Linked DNA regions of Homo sapiens: region 1 is linked to region 2. The links come from fine-mapping of genetic effects on gene expression. A gene starts in region 2. The other region holds a variant in brackets. All regions are shown on one strand. Distances are from middle to middle. Region 1 has its middle 15 kb from the start of GBGT1. Region 2 holds the start of RALGDS (ral guanine nucleotide dissociation stimulator).

What was found. PIP is the estimated chance that this variant, and not a neighbour inherited with it, causes the effect.
Region 1: its variant is fine-mapped to the expression of RALGDS in whole blood (INTERVAL, PIP 0.97).

What each region holds. Positions count from the first base shown.
Region 1 is chr9:133,147,696-133,150,590 of GRCh38, reverse strand. It overlaps a transcript of RALGDS not described here. Among named protein-coding and RNA genes, the nearest start is that of GBGT1, 15 kb to the left of the region's middle. RefSeq lists silencers at 1,055-1,564, 1,595-1,684 and an enhancer at 1,094-1,741. The variant A/GGCGCA (reference allele first, on the strand shown) is at 1,416.
Region 2 is chr9:133,119,665-133,122,559 of GRCh38, reverse strand. RALGDS (ral guanine nucleotide dissociation stimulator) reads left to right here and starts at 1,320. Exons shown (of 18, transcript NM_006266.4): 1 at 1,320-1,588. The coding sequence starts at 1,406. RefSeq lists a silencer at 1,031-1,740 and an enhancer at 1,720-2,416.

The sequences.
Region 1 (2,895 bases), 28 kb before region 2:
ATAAATAAATAAATCAAAAGGGTTGGCCAGGCAAAGTGGCTCACGCCTGTAATCCCAACACTTTGGGAGGCCGAGGAGGGCAGATCACCTGAGGTCAGAAGTTCGAGACCAGCCTGGCCAATATGGTGAAACTCTGTCTCTACTAAAAACACAAAAATTAGTCGGGCGTGGTGGTGGCAGCGTGCACCTGTAATCCCAGCTACTTGGGAGGCTGAGACAGGAGAATCGCTTGAACCCAGGAGGCAGAGGTTGCAATAAGCCGTGATCTAGCCACTGCATTCCAGCCTGGTCGACAAGAAGGAGACTGCGGCTGGTGCAGTGGCTCATGCCTGTAATCCCAGCACTTTGGGAGGCCAAGGTGGGAGGATCACCTGACGTCTGGAGTTTGAGACCAGCCTGGCCAACATGGTGAAACCCCATCTCTACTAAAAATACAAAATTAGCCGGGCGTGGTGGCAGGTGCCTGTAATCCCAGCTACTCAGGAGGCTGAGGCAGGAGAATTGCTTGAACCTGGGACGTGGAGGTTGCAGTGAGCCGAGATCGCGCCATTGCACTCCAGCCTGGGGGACAAGAGTGAGACTTCGTCTCAAAAAACAAACAAACGAGACTCCATCTCAAAAACAAAAGTAAATAAAAAATAAAAAGGGACGAAATCAGTTAGCCCTAATAACACTGACTACCCCCAACAGTCGCTCAACCCCAGTGTGAGGCCTCCTTCCCCCAGGCTCCCTTGAGCCCCATCTTACACCAGCTGAAGCTGCAGCTGGACCTTGTGGTCCCGGGTGCTGTCAGGGAAGACAAGGAGGGAGGTGGGGAAGAGGAGGGGAAGGGGAGACCTGACTTTCTCCCTGCCCAGGCTGAGTTCGCTGTCACCTCGGGTCCCCCAGCTCCCAGCCATCCGCCGAGCCGAGTCCAGCAGGTGGCATCGGGGTGCTGGGCGCCAGGGTGAACGTGTATATTTGGTGACGCCGGCGCGCCGACTCAGCGGCCCCCGCCTGGCTGGGGCGAGGTTGGCCCTAGGTCCTAGCGGGGTGGGGAGTACTGAGCAGGCGGCTGGGGCGGACGGACACGTGAGATCGGCCGCACATGGCGCTGGGAGCGTGGCGCGTGCGCGCGGCGAAGCGGAGTGACGTGCACGCGCTGTCTGCGGTCCCGCGCAGGCCCCGTGTGCGCGCCCGGCCTTGGACAACAGGCCCGGCTGCCCCGCGGGGGGAACACCCGCGTCGGCCCGCGGGAGGGAGGCCTGAGCGCGCCCCCGAGCGCGTCCCCGAGCTCACGCGGCGGGGCGCGCCCCTCGCACCTGCGGGCGGGCTGGGGCGGGGCCGCGGCTGTCCCCGCCCACCCGGGCCCGAGCCCGGGGAGCCGGGGCGGAACCGAGCGGCGAGGCCCGAGCGGCCGGAGCGCGGCGCGGCGC[A/GGCGCA]GACAATGGGAGCGGCGCTGGCGGCTGCCGGGGCGGCCCCGAGGGCCGCAGAGTCCTGGGCCCGGCGGGGACCGGAGGCCGCGCCATGAGCCCCGCAGCCGGGCGCACCCCTGCGCCGCGCGCGGGCCCAGGCGAGCGGCCTCTGCGAGCCCCGGGTCCCGCCCTGGGGCCGGCGATGTGCCACCGAGGCTGAGGATGATGGTAGATTGCCAGGTGAGTGCGCGCCGTCCCCAGCCTCGCGTCGCGGGTGGAGGGAGGACCGTATGCCCCAGCCCACACCCACCGGGGGGAGGGAGCCCGGCGCCGCGTCCACGCTGAGCGTGCGCTTACGCAGCTCCGCGTCCAACCCCGCCCGGGACAGTAGGGAAACTGAGGACAGGAGAGGGGCAGGGACTCGCCCGGGGCACACGAAGTTGGCGGAGTCCAGAGATGAAGGGAGGGTTCCGGCCTCTTAGGCCAGGAAGGGCTCGGCTCACCCTTCCCGTGGGGTTTGCTTTGGGAATGACAGCCTCTAAGATCCTGGGGACCCCTGCCCATCTCCCATGTGGGCTCATTTGCCTGGGCTTCTCCGCGCACGTACAGGCGCAGGCCTGCGCATACATGCTCACACACACGCAGACACACACACCACACACTTCCTGGGGCTCAGAGTAGGACGGGACGCTGGGGAAGTGACTGGGGGAAAGAAGAAAGAGGGCGGGGGCTACTCTGCCACGGGCAGGGGCATCCAGTACCCAGCAACATGCCTGGGGCCATGGCACGGGGTGGGGGGCAAGGGGAGGACACGCCAGCTTGATGGGCGGGGATTCTCCAAGGTTCCCAGGATCTGTCTGGGCTGGGGCAGCCTGGAGAGGACAGATTGTGGGGTTCTGTGTTCACCGCTGTGATCACCTGGAAGCAGGAAAAGACCCCTTCAGTGTGGACGGGGCTGTAGGAAAGGAAGCCTCAAATTCCTGCTCTATAAATTGGAATGTTTGGCCTGGGTGACTCCAAGGGTCCCACAGGCTCGTAGACGTGTCTGTCGGCCTTAGGTCTCCACTGGGGATGCCCCCACTACCCACCGAGGTCTGTGGAAAATGCCTTCTTCTTGGAGGTTCTTCTGAGCAAGAGAAGCCGGGGGGGCTGAAGGGCTGAGGGCCTGGGGTGGTGCAGAGCGTGGCCAAGCACTGGACAACTCTTGTGGGACAAGACTGTCCTTGTTGGAGCCTCAGGGTTCTTATTTGGAAGTGGGGCCAGAGCCGTTGCCCTGGTTGGAGTGAGGAGGCCTCACGAGTGAACTGGACACCCCAGGACCAGCAGAGGGAAAGAGGGGAGCAAATGAAGCTTCTGAGGCGCCTTGAATTACCCCTGGAGCCTGCAGGTTCTGCTCCTTTGACCCCCTGGGACTCAGGAGAGCTGCTACCTTGACAACACCCAAACAAAGGTGTGTGTTTTGTTTTCTGGGTTTTCTGCCTGAGGCTGCTGCTGCTGTGCTAGTGCC
Region 2 (2,895 bases):
CTGAACGGATGAACTGCCGCCTCACTCCAGTCACAGTGGAAGTGTTTCGTGGGTGTCTGAGGATTGGCACTTGGGAAGGGGGCAAGATGTGCTCGTGGAATGTGCTGTCTGGTCCCGCCCTCTCAGTTTACAGATGGAGAAACTGAGGCCCAATAGTACGGACCAGACCTGGGGAGGTTGGCATGGCCAGGGCTGCTGGCAGCAATTGCTGGCCTCCATGAAGACTGAAGGCTGAGGCCAGGGCAGGCCCAGTGATGAGTGAGGCATGAGGAAGGGTCCCATTCATTCATCCATTCTCCTGGCCCTGCTGTTAAGCCCCAGGCTGTCTTCCTTCCTCACTGGCTTCCAGAAAGAGTAGTTGAGGATGTCCCTGTCCCTGCTTCCCCTTCAGCCCCAGCAGCCCCACTTCCACCCTGAGACCAGGGATGTCCAAGCCACAAGCAGCCCCAGCTGACAGGCCACGCAGCCATGTGCTCTGCCCAGCGTTGTCACTCTTGATGCCTTCCTCCTTGTCAGATGCCTCTCAGCCCCAACCTTGGTGCCTTCCGCTCTCCCCCACCTCCCTGGCTTCCCCTCCTCTGAGGGTGTCTGTAAGGGGATAGTGTGGGGCTTTGCCCCAAAAAGGTAGGGCCCCACTCTCTGACCCTTTCCCCCACTGCACACACAGCCCCACACTCAGGATTTCCAATTGCACTGACAGGGTCACTGAACACATGGTCAGCCTCTCCAAACTCCGCCTGAGCCTGTAGTCAGGTGCAGGTGCTCAGTGCTGAGTGCTTCATGTCCATTACGTAATGTCATCCTCCCCGCAACTGTTTGAGGAAGTCATTTTCACTACCCAGATTTTCCAGATGAAGAAACAGTGAGGCTCAGAGGGGTTAAGCAACTTGTGGAAGGCCACAGAGTTGGGGAGAGGCTTTGCTGGAATTCGGGGTAGCTGACTCCAGGGCGGCTTCCCCACACATGATCAGCACGTACACATTTCAGCCCTACGCAACACACGCACTGCAGCAGCGTGACACGCAAACGGTGCCTAACCGGGGTACCCAAGGCCCCACGACACACGTGACAGCCGGTCCTCCGGGAGACCCAGCCAACGCGCACCCCTCGACCTCCCCGGCCCCGCCCTCTTTGTTCAGACCCCGCCCCTCCAGGCTCCCGGTCCCGCCCCGGGTCTGACCTCGGCGAGGGCGGGGCCGCGGGCGCGCGCACGCACGCGTCCCTCGGACTCTCCGGTTCCGCCCCTCCCCGGCCCCACCCTCTTCCCCTCCGGCCCCGCCCCCCAGCCTGACATCAGCAGGGCCGGGCCGCGGGCTCACAGCGGTGGCAAAGCCCAGCCGCGCGGGCCGCGCCGCCGCCCCCGCCGCGCGCCGGGCCGGCCCCGCGCCCGCGCTGCGAGCCTTCCATGGTGCAGCGCATGTGGGCCGAGGCGGCCGGGCCTGCTGGCGGCGCCGAGCCGCTGTTTCCGGGCTCCCGGCGGAGCCGCAGCGTGTGGGACGCCGTGCGCCTGGAGGTGGGCGTCCCCGACAGCTGCCCGGTGGTGCTGCACAGCTTCACGCAGCTAGACCCCGACCTGCCGCGCCCGGAGGTGGGTGAGCTGGGGCGGTCGGGCGGGGGGTGCGTCGGAGCCTCCCCACCCGCGGCAGAGCTGGGCAGGTCGGGGCGAGCCCCGGACGGGGCCGGGCGATCCCAGCGGGCCGCCTCCCTCCTCTCTCCTCCATAGGTGGGGGTCGGGGCCTTCTGCAGAAATCAGCCAGCAGGGTGGGCAGTGGGGGCTGCCGCCGCGCCCCGTCCAACAGTAGGGACCACGGCTGGGGTTTTGCGCCCCTCAATACCGTTCCAGGGCCTGCTGTCACCAAGGCCGCTGCAGCCCAGGTGGACCTTTTTCTGCGGCACTGTCCCTGTTTACATCGGTGGCCTGTGCCTTATTTCACTCAGTTCCCACCCAGGGCCCGCAGCGCGTCGTTAGCCTTTACGATGCAGGTGTGGAACAAGTGGTCGGGAAGGCCAAATCCTAGAATCCTCAGAGGTGATGAGACCATAGGGGCCTTCCAGACAGACCCTACTTGGGGCAGATGTGGATCTGGTGACCAGGGACATCGGGGCTGCTCAGAGCGGGGTGGGGGGGGGGTCGGGGGATGGGGTGGAGCAGCAGGCCTCCAACACGTGGGACCAGATGTCCTGGTGGTGAGGGGAGGAGGGTGGCCCAGGCCCAGGGCGGGCAAGACTTGTTTCTGCTTAACTGGAAAGAGTGCCAACACCCTGAATCGGTAAGGACTGGGTAGGATTCAGAGAAGGGAGTGGTGTACCTGTGATGGATGGAGGGGAGGGTGACTAGGTGAGGGCGGGGGCTTGTTTCTCGTGTGCCCTGGGTCTCTGGGTGGTGCCATCTGCCTCCCACCTGACTGCTGCTGACTACACAGCAGAGGGAGTGGAATCCAGAGATGCCCCCCTCGCCCTGCTCTGCCTGGGCACAGGGCCTGCACAGAGGCCATTCCTGGATCGGGGGCTCAGGGCCCATCAGAGCTTTGGCTGGGCTGCAGCCTTCACAGTGAACCTCCTGAGTCCCCGTGCGGCATCGTGTTGCCTTGCTGCGTCTCCAGTCGCTTCATGGCTTTAGACTGTGGCGCGTTGTGATTGCTGGCGATTGTTAGCCTGAGTCTCGTGCCTCTTGGTGTCCCGGTACCTAGACAGGGCCTGGATGCGACTTGTTTCTCCGCCCAGTGTTGGGCAGAGCTCTTGGTGGGGGAACACCACACGCCTGAGAGACCCTTTCCTCCTGAGCTTGGCAGATGGCCGGACCAGACGTGTTCCCTCAACCCTCATCTATCCAGGGCTCTGGTCCTCATTGGCGGCTGGAGAGGGACCCCTGGGAGGGTGGGGGTGGGAGGCTGA